Linked DNA regions of Homo sapiens: region 2 is linked to region 1. The links come from fine-mapping of genetic effects on gene expression. Tissue or cell type: monocytes. Region 1 holds a variant in brackets; the other region holds the start of a gene. All regions are shown on one strand. Distances are between the middles of the regions.

Evidence for each region. PIP is the estimated chance that this variant, and not a neighbour inherited with it, causes the effect.
Region 2: TGFBR2 starts here. The variant in region 1 is fine-mapped to the expression of TGFBR2 in monocytes (TOPMed, PIP above 0.99).

What each region holds. Positions count from the first base shown.
Region 1 is chr3:30,691,918-30,700,145 of GRCh38, forward strand. TGFBR2 (transforming growth factor beta receptor 2) reads left to right here. Exons shown (of 7, transcript NM_003242.6): 7 at 1-2,225. Among named protein-coding and RNA genes, the nearest start is that of TGFBR2, 89 kb to the left of the region's middle. The variant T/C (reference allele first, on the strand shown) is at 3,164.
Region 2 is chr3:30,602,744-30,610,913 of GRCh38, forward strand. TGFBR2 (transforming growth factor beta receptor 2) reads left to right here and starts at 3,858. Exons shown (of 7, transcript NM_003242.6): 1 at 3,858-4,234. The coding sequence starts at 4,141. It overlaps LOC105377015 (translation initiation factor IF-2-like), which reads right to left and starts at 4,181. Exons shown (of 2, transcript XM_047449400.1): 1 at 3,403-4,181; 2 at 1,656-2,815. The coding sequence starts at 4,181. The coding sequence ends at 3,741. RefSeq lists a silencer at 3,932-4,031.

The DNA of each region.
Region 1 (8,228 bases):
TATATATATATCTATATATGTCTATAGCTCTATATATATAGCCATACCTTGAAAAGAGACAAGGAAAAACATCAAATATTCCCAGGAAATTGGTTTTATTGGAGAACTCCAGAACCAAGCAGAGAAGGAAGGGACCCATGACAGCATTAGCATTTGACAATCACACATGCAGTGGTTCTCTGACTGTAAAACAGTGAACTTTGCATGAGGAAAGAGGCTCCATGTCTCACAGCCAGCTATGACCACATTGCACTTGCTTTTGCAAAATAATCATTCCCTGCCTAGCACTTCTCTTCTGGCCATGGAACTAAGTACAGTGGCACTGTTTGAGGACCAGTGTTCCCGGGGTTCCTGTGTGCCCTTATTTCTCCTGGACTTTTCATTTAAGCTCCAAGCCCCAAATCTGGGGGGCTAGTTTAGAAACTCTCCCTCAACCTAGTTTAGAAACTCTACCCCATCTTTAATACCTTGAATGTTTTGAACCCCACTTTTTACCTTCATGGGTTGCAGAAAAATCAGAACAGATGTCCCCATCCATGCGATTGCCCCACCATCTACTAATGAAAAATTGTTCTTTTTTTCATCTTTCCCCTGCACTTATGTTACTATTCTCTGCTCCCAGCCTTCATCCTTTTCTAAAAAGGAGCAAATTCTCACTCTAGGCTTTATCGTGTTTACTTTTTCATTACACTTGACTTGATTTTCTAGTTTTCTATACAAACACCAATGGGTTCCATCTTTCTGGGCTCCTGATTGCTCAAGCACAGTTTGGCCTGATGAAGAGGATTTCAACTACACAATACTATCATTGTCAGGACTATGACCTCAGGCACTCTAAACATATGTTTTGTTTGGTCAGCACAGCGTTTCAAAAAGTGAAGCCACTTTATAAATATTTGGAGATTTTGCAGGAAAATCTGGATCCCCAGGTAAGGATAGCAGATGGTTTTCAGTTATCTCCAGTCCACGTTCACAAAATGTGAAGGTGTGGAGACACTTACAAAGCTGCCTCACTTCTCACTGTAAACATTAGCTCTTTCCACTGCCTACCTGGACCCCAGTCTAGGAATTAAATCTGCACCTAACCAAGGTCCCTTGTAAGAAATGTCCATTCAAGCAGTCATTCTCTGGGTATATAATATGATTTTGACTACCTTATCTGGTGTTAAGATTTGAAGTTGGCCTTTTATTGGACTAAAGGGGAACTCCTTTAAGGGTCTCAGTTAGCCCAAGTTTCTTTTGCTTATATGTTAATAGTTTTACCCTCTGCATTGGAGAGAGGAGTGCTTTACTCCAAGAAGCTTTCCTCATGGTTACCGTTCTCTCCATCATGCCAGCCTTCTCAACCTTTGCAGAAATTACTAGAGAGGATTTGAATGTGGGACACAAAGGTCCCATTTGCAGTTAGAAAATTTGTGTCCACAAGGACAAGAACAAAGTATGAGCTTTAAAACTCCATAGGAAACTTGTTAATCAACAAAGAAGTGTTAATGCTGCAAGTAATCTCTTTTTTAAAACTTTTTGAAGCTACTTATTTTCAGCCAAATAGGAATATTAGAGAGGGACTGGTAGTGAGAATATCAGCTCTGTTTGGATGGTGGAAGGTCTCATTTTATTGAGATTTTTAAGATACATGCAAAGGTTTGGAAATAGAACCTCTAGGCACCCTCCTCAGTGTGGGTGGGCTGAGAGTTAAAGACAGTGTGGCTGCAGTAGCATAGAGGCGCCTAGAAATTCCACTTGCACCGTAGGGCATGCTGATACCATCCCAATAGCTGTTGCCCATTGACCTCTAGTGGTGAGTTTCTAGAATACTGGTCCATTCATGAGATATTCAAGATTCAAGAGTATTCTCACTTCTGGGTTATCAGCATAAACTGGAATGTAGTGTCAGAGGATACTGTGGCTTGTTTTGTTTATGTTTTTTTTTCTTATTCAAGAAAAAAGACCAAGGAATAACATTCTGTAGTTCCTAAAAATACTGACTTTTTTCACTACTATACATAAAGGGAAAGTTTTATTCTTTTATGGAACACTTCAGCTGTACTCATGTATTAAAATAGGAATGTGAATGCTATATACTCTTTTTATATCAAAAGTCTCAAGCACTTATTTTTATTCTATGCATTGTTTGTCTTTTACATAAATAAAATGTTTATTAGATTGAATAAAGCAAAATACTCAGGTGAGCATCCTGCCTCCTGTTCCCATTCCTAGTAGCTAAATCCATTTGCCTCATTTGGTTATTTTGCAATTTATGCAGAAAACGTCACCAAGTAAATAATCTCCAACTTTTTCATACTGTCTTTCTCAACTGACAGTCTCACAGTCCTTAAAAAAAAAAAAAAAAAAAAAAAAAAGTCACAGAAGCTCAGTAATATGAGATGAAGCAGATGCTGCTCATGGCCTGCCTGCCATGCTGGCGTCCTGGCATGATGTCCCTCTGAATGCCCAGAAGACCTCTTCCCACAGTCTCAGGAGCTGCCTCTATCCACATGGCTGTTTCTTGCAGGGATTTTCACAGCCAGTGTTTCTACCGCTTCTTCTATTTTCTCTATTCCTCATACTAGCAAGCTGTTGGCTCTCTTCTTGACTCTTGTCATATTCCATGCTTCCCTTTTCTACCCAGATACCACATCCATTTGGTGCTTTTAATTGATTTACATGAATGGTGAGATGAATATGCCTTAGGAAATTGTCTCCTGGTCATTTCTTGTGACAAAGTGCACGAGATTTTCTGCCTGAACTTCATGCTACCTGTTTTGGAATCTGAGAGATTCTGTAGCTTCTTCTTAGTTATCGACTGGGTTCTAAATAGTTAATGTCATAGTGCCTGCACCAGGGTATTTCAACCTTAGCACTGCTGACTTATTTTTGCATTGGATAATTGTGTGTTGGGAGGGAGGGAAGCCGTCCTGTGCACTGTGGGATGTTTAGCAGTATCCCTCGCCTCCACCCACTAGATGCCAGTAGCACCCACCCCACAGCTGTGACAACCAAAAATTTCTCCAGACATTGCCAAATGTCCCCTGAAAGACAAAGTTCCTCTCAGTGGAGAATCACTGAGCTAGATGATGTGGTCCTACTGTGGGCCTTAGTTATAGTCTTGTCTTTATTAGTAGCAATTTTAGTGGTTACTAACTGTAGAGGTTACCTGCTCCTC[T/C]ATTTGCCAGCTTTGTGATCTGGGCAAATTACTTAACCTCTCCATGCCTCAGTTTCATCATGTGTAAAATGAGATTTTACAAGCCTCATCCTATACAAGATAAAATTGTGGTAAGAAGACACATTAGGCTTTTGAAGATGGGTCTTGAACTTTTTGGAAAGCCTTCACTACATGCTGGCCAGTGTTAAGTTGGTTTAGTATGCCAAGGACTGCTTAGGCAAAGAAGCAGATTTTTAGGTACAAACCTAGAGAGCATTTACAACAGAGGAAAATGGGTACAGTCCCCAGGTCTGCAGGACAGGAAACGTGGGTCCTGTGTGAACACATAATCGGGGGAGAGCGCTCATTCACTGAGTACTCGCTATGCCATCGGATTGAATCCTCCACTAGCTCGGTGAGGTACATACTATGCCCATTTAACAGATGAGGAAACAGATGGTCAGAGAGCTCAGATAAGAAGCCCAGGGTCTCACCATGTAGAATCTGGATGCAGGGCCAAGTTGTCTTGGAACTGGAATTTGGAACACCTGACATGCTTGGTTCTTTATTTCCTGCTGTTTCCTGAGGGAACTGACCTGCCCAAGCAGGACCAAAAGGCTACCCCATGAAGAAAAGCTCTGCTACTGGATCATTGTTCTCATCTCTCTCTGGGTCTCTGCTCAGTGGAGGCAGAAAAGGTGCTTTTCCATTTCTATTGCCTGACTTCCTCTCCATTCACATGGTAAGTGTTGTCTACATGCTTGCTGAGAGAACAACTGGAAGATGAGTGAATGTGTGTAGACTGTGTTTCCTAATGTGTGAAATGTGTACTGGTATCTGAGATGATTTAAGATTGTGCCACCTTTATAAAAATAGATCCACCTTTATTTTAGTGGATCATTAACATACATTAGAAAAAAATCATTAACACAGCCTGGGCTTTCACAAATAATATTGCTTGAAATATGGCTGAGTTTAAAAACTTGAATTGATTATTAAAATACATTAAGTAGACGACACTCATGCATGACAACTACAGGAGGTGTTAATAGGAATAATTGAAGTTAGGGAGCTCTACCCAAGGAGGCAAATTCATATTAATTCCTAACATTTATTGAGTACTTGGTAAGTGCCAAACACTATTCTCTGTTTTACCTTATCTGCTTAAATCCTCTCAACAACCCTGCGAAGTATCTTACCTCCATCTTATAGAGGAGGAAACTGAGGCAGAGAGCAAGGTCTAGCTAAGGGTCGCAATCATTAGCATGAGAATTTGAACTGAAGCAGTTGGACTCCAGGGATCAAACCCCCACCTTGAACACAAGATAAAGCTGGAGTTAGGGGGTAACAACGTGGAGCCTCTGGAGAGCTCAAGGGTTTTTGATTCAACAGTCCAAAATGAGGAGGCAGATGCAGTTAGCACTGGAGAGGAGGGAGTTACCCATGAGGGAACCCAGGGAGGAAAAGTTATTCCTCAAATGCACATGGGCTCCGGGCTGCAGCCCAAGAGCTTCAGCCAAAACAGGAGCCAAGGTCTTCTAACCCCTCTCCCTTCTTCCACGCTTTGTTTTGCTGGGGTTATTTTAGTTCTTGCTACTGCAAGGTCAGGAACATTCCCAACTGGCAATTGGTCTCCAAGTGCCCTCAGCATGGACTCAGTCCCTTGCACCAGTCAGCATCCTTTGAATGCAGTCTATATTTGTGCCCAGGAGTTTCTATTTGTGGTGGCTGTTTTTGTTTTAAGCTCTCTATGCAAATGACACACTAATGGTCTGGTCCTAAGGGAAATTCTGTCTTCAGGTGACAGAGAACTTTTCATTTAAACAAGTGTATCTATCCTTTTTCACTAAAGCCACTACAGTCGGCATCTGCTCATTTTGTTCATTTTCCTCCTGAAATAGGTTAGCTAATCATTGCTTATCACATTTCCAACTAGTTTCTTTTTTTTTACTTGAATAACTATAGCTCCACCCTCTATGGGTTTGGGGCCATGCCTTTCAGGCCTACTTTGCAAACTGTGCTGATAAAAGACAAGATTGTGAACTTGCCCACATTACATGGGCTGCCAATCAGCCTCACATGGTGTAATTTAATTCTAATACGCCTCCTGATCTTTGGTGCATTTAAAAATAACTTGTTAATAGTCTTCCTATTCTAATTAAGCTAAAATTGCACACACTGTGAAATGCTTGCTCTCTTGCTCTCTCATGCTCTCTCTCTCTCTCTACACACACACACACACACACACACACACACACACACACAATTGATCCTTAAAAATCATTTCTGTAAACTGCCTGTGTAGCACAGTGCTTCTGAAATTCTCCTGTGTCTTCCCCTGACCTATGCCCACAATGATAGACAATAGAATAAAATAACTGTGGCCCTGGTACCCTAGGTCCATTAAAATATTCATAATAAATTGTCTAAACATTGATAACAAAGTGGTTAAAATTGGAACCTCTAGAGCCAAATCTCCTGGGTTCAAATCCCAGCTCTGCCACTAACTGTAACTTTGTGTAAGTCTTTTAACTGTTTTTATTTCCTGGTTTCTTAATGTGTAGAAGGAGGATAATGATGAGATCTACTTGGGAAAGTTGTAAGAGTTAAATGAAATACTGGTTTTTTAAATGGTTAGAACAGAGACTGATGCACATAAGTATTCATTATTATAATTCAGTTTTTGCATTCTTTAAAGTGAAGCTGTGTTGTTGCAGTATTTTAAGGATATATTGTTCCCCAAATTTTTGGGTAAAATTGACTGTTAAGGAAGATGAGTCATGTTTAAACTGTAATTGTGAGTAGACCACCCTTTATCCTTGAAGGGCTTTCTCAACCAGGTGAATGGCATGGCTGTGGTGGGAAATACAGGGCCCTGTGAGACAGGAAATCTAGGGGGTTGTCTAGCTCCATTACCATCCTCTTCTTTTATGGATTCAGTGTCTTGTTCTTTTGTTCCATGTGAGAATCATCCCTGCCCTGCCTACGTTATAAAGCTGGAGAAAAATGAAATAAGTAAAAACACATGGAAAACGTACTAAAATATTAATGCAAGGATGCAAGGTATAATCTTTGCTGGAACATTAGTTCCTCATTTATTAGTAACATTACAGGCATTTGAAATTATGTACTTTATATGGGACCTATATTTTAAATATATGCTAATCATCCTAGAAGCCCTACAAGGTAGGTGTTACTTTTTTCCATTTTACCATTAAGGAAATTATCCAGGTTTACACAACTTGAACCCAGGTCTCTGTCAGTAAAAAACTGTCTACTCTTCCAAACCATTTTATCTATCCATATTTATTTCCTCCATCAAACATTAGTTGAATGCAATGTGGTGTATCACCCAAGGTCGGCTGGCATCTTGAAAACAATAACTATGTGTTACTCAGCATCTTAGCACCTAGCAAAGAGTGGAGAATATAACAGTCTTTCAATTAAGTTTTGTCGAAGAAAGAAATGAAGGCTCTTGGTCTTTAGAAATTCACAAATCAGCTGAGGAGACAGACATACTAACCAACAGCATATGATCAGCATGTTCTAATTGGTACTGTCTCTGGAATAAAACAGCTGGCAGCAAAAAATGTCTGACTTTTGCAGAGAAACTCCTAATATGAGTTTGACTGCTGTCCCACATCTACCTATGTGGTCGTAGTGCTGTAGTCACTGTTGTTACCCTAAGAGGACAGCCTTGTTCCTCCAGGTCTCTTACAACTCTCTTTTAAGGAGCTCGTATTAGATCCCTAGAGCTGCTGTAATGCATTGCCCAAATCTTGTGACTTAAACCAACAGAAATTTATTATCTCATAGTTCTGGAGGCTAGAAGCCTGAAATGAAGGTGTCTGCAGGCTTCACTCTCTCTGAAATTTTTATGAGAACATTTTTCATGTGATTTAGAGCCCACCTGGGTAATCCAGGATGATATCATCTCAAGATTCCTAACTTAATTACACCTGTAAAATCCATTTTTCCAAATAAGGTCATATTCACAAGTTCTGAAGACTAAGGCATGGACAGATCTCATTGGAAACCATCATTCAACCCACTGCAAAGCTTTAGCCAATTCCCAGCTATGAATTCTTCCAAGATGAAAGGATACCAAGCTCAAGACTCTCCCTTGTTCATTTGAGGCCTTCCCAAAGATGACTGACATTTTCACAAATTTTATTTGGTTTCATTTCCTATCTTAACGAAAACAATGATAATTTCCTATCTTAATGAAAAAAATGATAATGTTTATACTGTATGATAATTAAAACATCATGTAAAGATTACTCTTTATCTAAATGTTTGCACATACTCTTTGAACATCCATCATTTTTCCAGCAGTTATGATTTTTTCTTCCCAGGAATATGGGAATGAAGTGAAATTGACAACTTTTCCCCCACGCATTGTATCCTCTTTTAATGCCACCCCCTGTGTTTAACAGCCTCTGACACAATGTAGGAGCAATCCATGGTACTCAAAGAATATTATGGAATTTAACAACAAGTATATATATTTGTCTTGATCCAGTGTCTTATCTGATTACCTTGGGCCACAGGAATACCCTAGGTGAGAAGGGAAAGTTGGGTTCTAGCCCAAGTCCTGTTACTAAGTCTCTTAGCTCCATGACCCTTGGATATTCTAGTTATTATTACTACAAAACTTAGCGGCTTAAAGTAATCTTTTTATTTTACATAATTTTATGGGTCAGAAATTTGGGAAAGGCTTAGGCTGGAAAGTTTTCACTTGGAGTTTCTTCTACCATTGCAGTCATATGTCAACTGGGACTTAAATCATCTGATAGCTCAGCTAGGCTAGATATCCAAGATGCCTCACTCTGGTGGTTAGTACCAGTAGTTGACTGGGATCTCAGTTGGGGCTGTCATCTAGGACAACGGCACATGGCTTTTCCAAGTGGCAGTGTTAAGACAATACTTTTAATATGACATCTGGCTTCCTCTAGGGTGAGTGTAGAACCTGTGGAAACTACACGGGTATTTATGACATAGCCTTGGAAATCATACAAGATCACTTCTCCCATACTCGATTGAGCCAAGCAGTTGCAAGTCACCCAAATTCAAAGCAATGGGACGT
Region 2 (8,170 bases), 89 kb before region 1:
AATTCTAAAAAGCAAATAAATAACAATAATGTACTCCATGTTAGAATGGGGCAAACATTTTTTTTTAAAAAAAGGCTAAATAAACGAAATGTTCCCTGGGTTATCCCTGGGAAAGGAGTGATCACAGTAGGTGAAGCATCACAAAATATTTCCTGGAGGAGGTAGCATCATGGATGACCCACAAAGGGTGGATGACCCTCACAAATTAACTACAGTCTCAGTGCTTATTGGTTTGCTTCACAATAAAAGGAAAATTGGTCAAGAGATAAGAGCTGAGAATGAGGCTGGTTAATTTATAAGGAGAGGAATCTCCCTGTTAACTGCTCTAGCTGACAGTAACCTCAACAGCTGCATGTCACAAAGCTCAGGGGAGTAGGAAGTTCTTCTCTCATCACAACTGAGAAACCCAACGTTTAAATAAACCACAATTTGATTCAGTTCAATTGTGTGTGTTTGTGTGTGCGTGCAGAGTTTAAAAAGCTGGTAAAATAGATTGTCAGCTTTTAAAATTTCTGTTCAAGTTGATATTTATTGTTTTTCAACTCATTAAGGGCTTAAACGTTACCTTCCTTGTTTTTTAAACCCTGAGTCGGGCTATTATTTTTTTGTTCCCATTTGCAAATGGCCCAGTTTTTTACATGTATATATTAACTGCTTATGTGAATACACAAAATATTATACTAAGCCAAATATACAACTATGTGTGAAAATGATGTCTTGATTAAGGGTATCAGACATCCCTTTCAACAAGAATTTCAAAAGGAAGGGCATCATGACAATTTTTTTTTCTTTTTCTTTTATTTATTTTTTGTTTTTGAGACAGGGTCTCATTCTGTCTTCTAGGCTGAAGTGCAGTGGCACAATCATGGCTCACTGCAGCGTTCGTCTCCTGGGCTCAAGTGATTCTCCCACCTCAGCCTCCTGAGTAGTTGGCACTATAGATACATGCCAACATGCCTGGCTTTTTTTTTTTTTTTTTTTTTTTTAGTAAAGATGAAATCTCACTATGTTGCTTAGGCTGGTCTCGAACTCCTGGGCTCAAGTAATCCTCCCATCTAGACCTCCCAAAGTGCTGGGATTACAGGTGTGGACCACTGCACTCAGCCTGATGAATTTTTAAAATTATCAAATTGCAATATGCATGAGTTTACACATCTATTATTTTTATTATGATGATTTTCAAAAGGCTAGCTTGCACTTGGCAATGCTGAATTCTGATTCTTCTCAATTTCACAGGAGACTGGAGATTAAATCAGAAATGTTAAGGGCAAACAAAATTAAAATCAACATTAATGATGTATCATGGCAAAGACCACCAGTTAAACATTCCACCATAGATTTAAATATCTAGCCTCCAACAATGTAAAACATCTTTGTGATAATTAAGGAAAACAAAGCTTTTGGAATCTATTGGACATTTATTTGCCACATTGTGTTTTCAGGAGAAAGAAAGTACATGTTTGCTATCTGGAGGAACTTGGGCAAATGTAGGAAAAAAAAAAGAAGAAGAAAGAAACCCACATACTTCTCCATTCTTAAGAAAAGGAAGTAGTGGTGACATCATTCTCGGCTAAAATGTAGTCTGTTTATATCTCAAATATTCGGTAACAATGTTTTCTCCAGAGTTATGAAGCAACTAGAACAATCAAATACAATTTTCTTCTAAATCTTTATTGCCTGATTCATTCATTCATCCAACAAATATTTATTAAACATCGATTATGTGTTTGATGCTTAGGGACACAATAGTAAGTGGAGGGAAAGATACATAATACCTGCCCTCAAGAAATTTGGAGTTGAGTGGAGGATAGAAATATAAATTAAAGAATGACACAAATAATTATAAAGTTACAGCTGTTAAAAGAAAAGCATATGGTGCCAAGAGAACGTGTAATACAAGATCTACTCATGGAGGTGAGGGAAAGCTTGCCCATCAAAGAAGTTATGATTCAATCCACGAAGACCAGGAGTTGGCTGGGTGAAGAAAAAAAGGTCAGAGGAAGGAAGTCCACACTGGGGAAGGCTCTAAGCATAAAGGGTAGGAGGATTACAGAGGCATATTCACGAAATTTGGAGAAGGCTTTCAGTAAGCAAGGAGAAGCCAAATGAAAGTTTACGGGAGAGTTGGAGGCTTGAAGACACGTTCAAGGATCTGGTTTTTATCTTCTCTTTATCTCAAGAGCAGTGGGAAGCCATTAAATGATTTTAATCAGAGGGTTGGTATAACTAGTTTTGTATTTTGAAAAGCTGAATTCAGCTCTCGTTTGAGAAACTGAGTGAAAGAGCCCAGAACGGCCGTGGCTGAGGGTGACTCGTGGGAGACTCCTACACAAGCCATGGCAGTGGCATGGGCTGGTGGCAGAAGAGGGAATAGGGAGAAGATTTGGAACTCAATCTTCCTCCATTGACAAAGTCACTCCAGCTTTGGCAAGGCAATTAATTGGTGGGAAAGAAGATGCCTAGCCCTCCTGATTTCACTGCACTTTCTGCATCTTCAACATGAGTACTGGGAAGTGGCAAAACATCCAGAGGCAGCTTGGGTGCTAGGTGGAGCATGAGTTAAAATTCCAGGATGAAGCAAATGAACACTTAGAATGACAGGAAAGATTTGGGAGTTGGGTTTGGGGGAGGGCTATTTACCTTTATTCCCTGGAGACCCTGGCACAAACCCTTGCCTCTGCAATCTTCCTCTCAGGTAAAGGAATTCATTAAATGAATTGCTAGAAGATCTACTGACCAGAGGGCTGTACAGAATCATATCTTTGAGAGTGGGAAGTAGGTTGATCACATAGTTTATTATCCAATCAGGACATATCTGAAAGAGAAAGGGGGTTCTATTAATATTTAAACTACAAAACATGTACACCAGGAATGTCTTGGGCAAATCTGGTTGCCCTAGCAAGAAAGGAAATTTGAAAGTTTATACTGTTCTGCTCCCATGTTACCCCGTTTGCACATGAGAGGGTAAGTATTCTCTTTCTTCACCTGCATTAAGGGAATAAAAGCACAAGCATTCAGGTGACTCCCAACCCACTTTTAATTTTACAGTTTCTGCTATACTCTATACATTCTGAAAATTACATTTCCCACCACTATCACTTCGTGATAGGTGATCATTTACAATTACTCACTGACTCAGTCCCGGGAAGAGGCGGTGCAAAATGGGACGCTCTATCCAGGTGCTCATTAGAAATGCAGAATCTCTGCCTGCCTCCTAGACCTACTGAATTAGAATCTGCATTTTTAAATAAGATTTCCAGGTGATCAATATGTACATTAAAACTTGAGAAAAACCTCTAGACTTCGACCTAAAGAAAAACATTTTACAACTTGACAGTGTATGCACATACATACATGCATATAGACACAACTGAAGCACAAATTTAATGAAGTAGAATTTACCGTTACTATTTTATTTGGGAAAGAAATGTGCTCGCGACTCAATAGATTGGAGTATTCACTCCTGGATCTCAACTTGCAATTTGAAAACGCATCTCTAAAGCACCTAGGAGCAATCTGAAGAAAGCTGAGGGGAGGCGGCAGATGTTCTGATCTACTAGGGAAAACGTGGACGTTTTCTGTTGTTACTTTGTGAACTGTGTGCACTTAGTCATTCTTGAGTAAATACTTGGAGCGAGGAACTCCTGAGTGGTGTGGGAGGGCGGTGAGGGGCAGCTGAAAGTCGGCCAAAGCTCTCGGAGGGGCTGGTCTAGGAAACATGATTGGCAGCTACGAGAGAGCTAGGGGCTGGACGTCGAGGAGAGGGAGAAGGCTCTCGGGCGGAGAGAGGTCCTGCCCAGCTGTTGGCGAGGAGTTTCCTGTTTCCCCCGCAGCGCTGAGTTGAAGTTGAGTGAGTCACTCGCGCGCACGGAGCGACGACACCCCCGCGCGTGCACCCGCTCGGGACAGGAGCCGGACTCCTGTGCAGCTTCCCTCGGCCGCCGGGGGCCTCCCCGCGCCTCGCCGGCCTCCAGGCCCCCTCCTGGCTGGCGAGCGGGCGCCACATCTGGCCCGCACATCTGCGCTGCCGGCCCGGCGCGGGGTCCGGAGAGGGCGCGGCGCGGAGGCGCAGCCAGGGGTCCGGGAAGGCGCCGTCCGCTGCGCTGGGGGCTCGGTCTATGACGAGCAGCGGGGTCTGCCATGGGTCGGGGGCTGCTCAGGGGCCTGTGGCCGCTGCACATCGTCCTGTGGACGCGTATCGCCAGCACGATCCCACCGCACGTTCAGAAGTCGGGTGAGTGGTCCCCAGCCCGGGCTCGGCGGGGCGCCGGGGGTCTTCCTGGGGTCCCCGCCTCTCCGCTGCGCTTGACAGTCGGGCCCGGCAACCCGGCCCCCGGGCGGAAACGAGGAAAGTTTCCCCCGCGACACTCACGCAGCCCGACTCCCGTAGCTGCAGGGATTGTGAGTTTTTCTTGAAAAAGAGAAGGAAAGTTCAGTTGCAAGGGGCGCGGGGCACGTTTGGTCCCCTTTGTGCGAGCAGGAAAGGCGTTGTGTTGGCCGCGTTCGAGGCGAGCCCCCACCCCCGGAAAGGGAAGTTTGAGAAGTTGGTTATCTGAAGGCGGCCGGGGAGCAGCGGCCCGGAGCGGCAGCCTGAGCTGCCAAAGCAGCCAGCGCACCTGGGCCACTCCGCCCATGGCGATGCCGCGTGCCCACCCAGCTCTTTCTGAGCCACCCGTTCAAAAGGCCAGCTCCTCAGTCCTTAGCTCCTGGAGACGGCCACGCTTTCCCTCAGGCCGGCTTCTTGGCCCGGAGTTTTTGGAAACAAGTTTCAAGAAAATAATCGATTTCCAAAAGAAAGTTAGCTGGCTCCACTGACGCCTTGGCATGGATGGATAGGGAGTGGAGATGCTCAGGTGAAACCGAGAATCCCTCACTGAATGCCTACTGGGTGCTAGAGGCTGTAGATTTTGCCTGGAACAAGATAGTCCTGTCTTCAGGGAGTTGATGGTTCTATGCAATTATCGTTTGTTGGAAACCGAAGGGTTAAAATCCTAACTAGGCTACCCACCTGATCGCTGTCTCTGAAGGTTTTTAAGGAAAAAATAAAAATAAAAAAATATATATATATATTATATATATATAAATATATATATAATTATATATATAAATATATATAATATTAATATATATATGCATGCAGGAATGGGGGTTCTTAACTATTTGTTATGGAAAGTGTAAAACCTCTGAGACTTCAAAAGTTAGATTTTTTTTTTTTGGAGACGGAGTCTCGCTCTGTCACCAGGCTGGAGTGCAGTGGCGCAATCTCGGCTCACTGCAACTTTGCCTCTGGGTTCAAGCGATTCTCCTGCCTTAGCCTCCCGAGTAGCTGGGATTACAGGCGCGTGCCACCACGCCCAGCTAATTTTTGTATTTTTAGTAGAGACGGGGTTTCACCATATTGGCCAGGGTGGTCTCGATCTCTTGACCTCGTGATCCGCCCACCTTGGCCTCCCAAAGTGCTGGGATTACAGGCGTGAGCCACCGCGCCCGGCCAAAAGTTAGACTTTTTGCAGCTATGATCCAAATAACAGTATCTGCAGCTGTGGTCTGGGTAACCGAGTATTTGGGCAAGTCATAGAGCTTTTTCTGGGCCTTAGTTTCCTCATCTGTAAAATGGCCAGCTTGAATCTGGGTAATTTTACATCATCTTCATGTTTAACATCTTACGTATCGTGCCCCTCCCCTCCTTTCCCCTGGCTCTTCTGGTGACTTGGAGATGACCCATGTAGACTTTGGATGAAATGTAGAGGAGTTGACAGTCCACATCACCCGGAGGCACTCATTTTATTTATCCAGGGACATGGGCAGATTTACCTTTAGGTTTGTCTAGAAAAAATGCGCATCACGGTCAGTTGTAAATTTTAGAGTGTTTGAAGTGGATTGGGAACTTTTTAAAAATTATGGCATACATTGAAGGTGGCATGGAGATGGAAGCTTTTAATCAAATTAGGAAGAGGCACTATTGCAAGCAAAAAGTCTTGACACACATTTGAGTCCTATGGTTTTAATAAAATCTTAGTGTTTCGTTCTTGGCGTTTTTCCTGCATTGCAGTACCAGAATGTTCAATTGTCTCTCATTTTCCTCCAGACTTTTAAAACCTAAGTGACATTTTGCTAATAAATATTTAAAATGGCACCCTTAATTTTCTGTGGATGTTAAAAATCATTACAACTTTTGTTCCAGATTATAAAAGAAGGAAATTAGCAGGCCCTGATGTTGTTAGTTAGGTTCTGTTTACAAGGATAAGGTTTATGATTTGCAAATTCCAGACCCAATAGTTCACGAGTCACTTTCATTTCATCAATATACACACTTTTAAACAATTAGCTTAAAAACGTGGTGGCTTTTTATTTGGGTATTTAGACAGTTTTACAAGGCCCACAGATTTCATATTTTTATAGAACTGAAGTTTCAAAATGGTTGAATTAATGAATCATTTTGAATTTGTATTCATTTGATTCAAATTAAATTTTCAAAGTTGGCCAATGGTTGAAGACAGATATATTGAAGACGAGAAACCTAATTCTACTTACATTTTAATTTTTCATGTAAGTAAATAGTTTCAGAATTTCTCTAACGTAATTGGTAAACTGAAAACATTTTTTCAAAATATCTTAATGCAAGATAATATATCAGGTAATGAGATTGTTTAATAAACAACAAGCTCCTTTTACGTCACCTAAAAAGGCCCAAAAATCTGTCTTCTGTTTAGTAGCTTCTGTACTTCTGTTTAGTAGTATGCAAAGGATTTAAATAAAAGAACAAATTTCACTAAGAAATAGAAAGTTTTTTTTTCTTCGTTTTTGACTTAATAGATTCACTCTTCCTAAATGATCAAAATTAAGAAATGACTCTTTTGGGGAAAACTGTAAAGTGCACAATAACTCTTCAGGTCTGAAAAATATGACTTTTCAGGTTCCTGGAAGTAGATAGATTCTTATTGAGGACAAAGAATTTGTAAAAGTGTCATAGTGATCAGGTTCTTCACATCACTTTAATAACCTGCTTATTTTGTCAGGGTAAGAGACTAGACATCATTAGGCCCCAAATCTGATCTTCAGTCTACTCGTGCTTTTTTTCCGCCTCATAAAAACACATTTCCACCTTTAGGCCACTCAACATCTTATTTTTAATGAGTTATGATTTATACAAAATACTAATCACATTTTGAACTCATTGCCTTCTTTTCAATGTAGCATTCCCTAATGATGACTGTTGTCTATGTAGTCAACATAACTACTACATGTTTTCTACTCAGTTATGAACATGACTTTTTAATTTTTTCAGTAAGGTTAGTTTTTAACTCTGGATCAATAAGGCACCTCTGATATCATTGCAAAAACTGGGCATTTTTTCTTCTACCTTTTCAACCATATTTATTGAGTATCTCTTGCCAGGCAGGATGCTCAGACCTGGGATACCATCTCAGATGAATAAGACAGACCTGGTCTTTGCCATTGAATTTAACAGCTGGGAGCATGTTATAAGTAAAGAAAAGGATACGTGTTTTAACTGTTTATATTTGAAAGCATTATGGAATACTGGTGTTTTATTTTCTACACCTCATTTTCAAAAGCCTCATTTTTTTTTGTTGTTGTATGCACTAGGAGGATGTGCATGTTGAATGTTTCCTTCTAGGTCCCATTGAATGTATTTTTGAATCAATTTGTTGTCTCTTTCCTATCCCTGCCTTGTCACGGAGCCCCAGTTGGGCAGCCTTTAATTGCATTCTCCATTCCATAGCCAGCATGATGGACCCAATGCGTTCATTTAGTGCTCTCTTTGAGGATAGGCTGGTGGTAGAAGAGTGTAGGGTATAAACTTTGGAATCAGGCCGTCCTGGGTTCCAGACCCACTTGCCATGTACTGGCTGTGTAGCCTGTTGTAGTTGCTTTACCTACTAGTCATCCCTGGTCTCATTTGTAAAATGAGGATTATGGAGTTATGGTGAGGATTAAATAAAATATTGTTTTAAAGTATTTAACATGGTGCCTGCAACATAGTAAATGCTCAATAAATATCAGCTTCTGTTATTACTATTAACTCCTTAATTGGGCTTACCAGGGGCCTCTGACCTGGTTCCCATTTGACTCTGCTGCTTCACATCCCACCACAGCCCACATTTTCCCAGTCTATTTGTGTCACTACACATACACACAATGTGAGCAA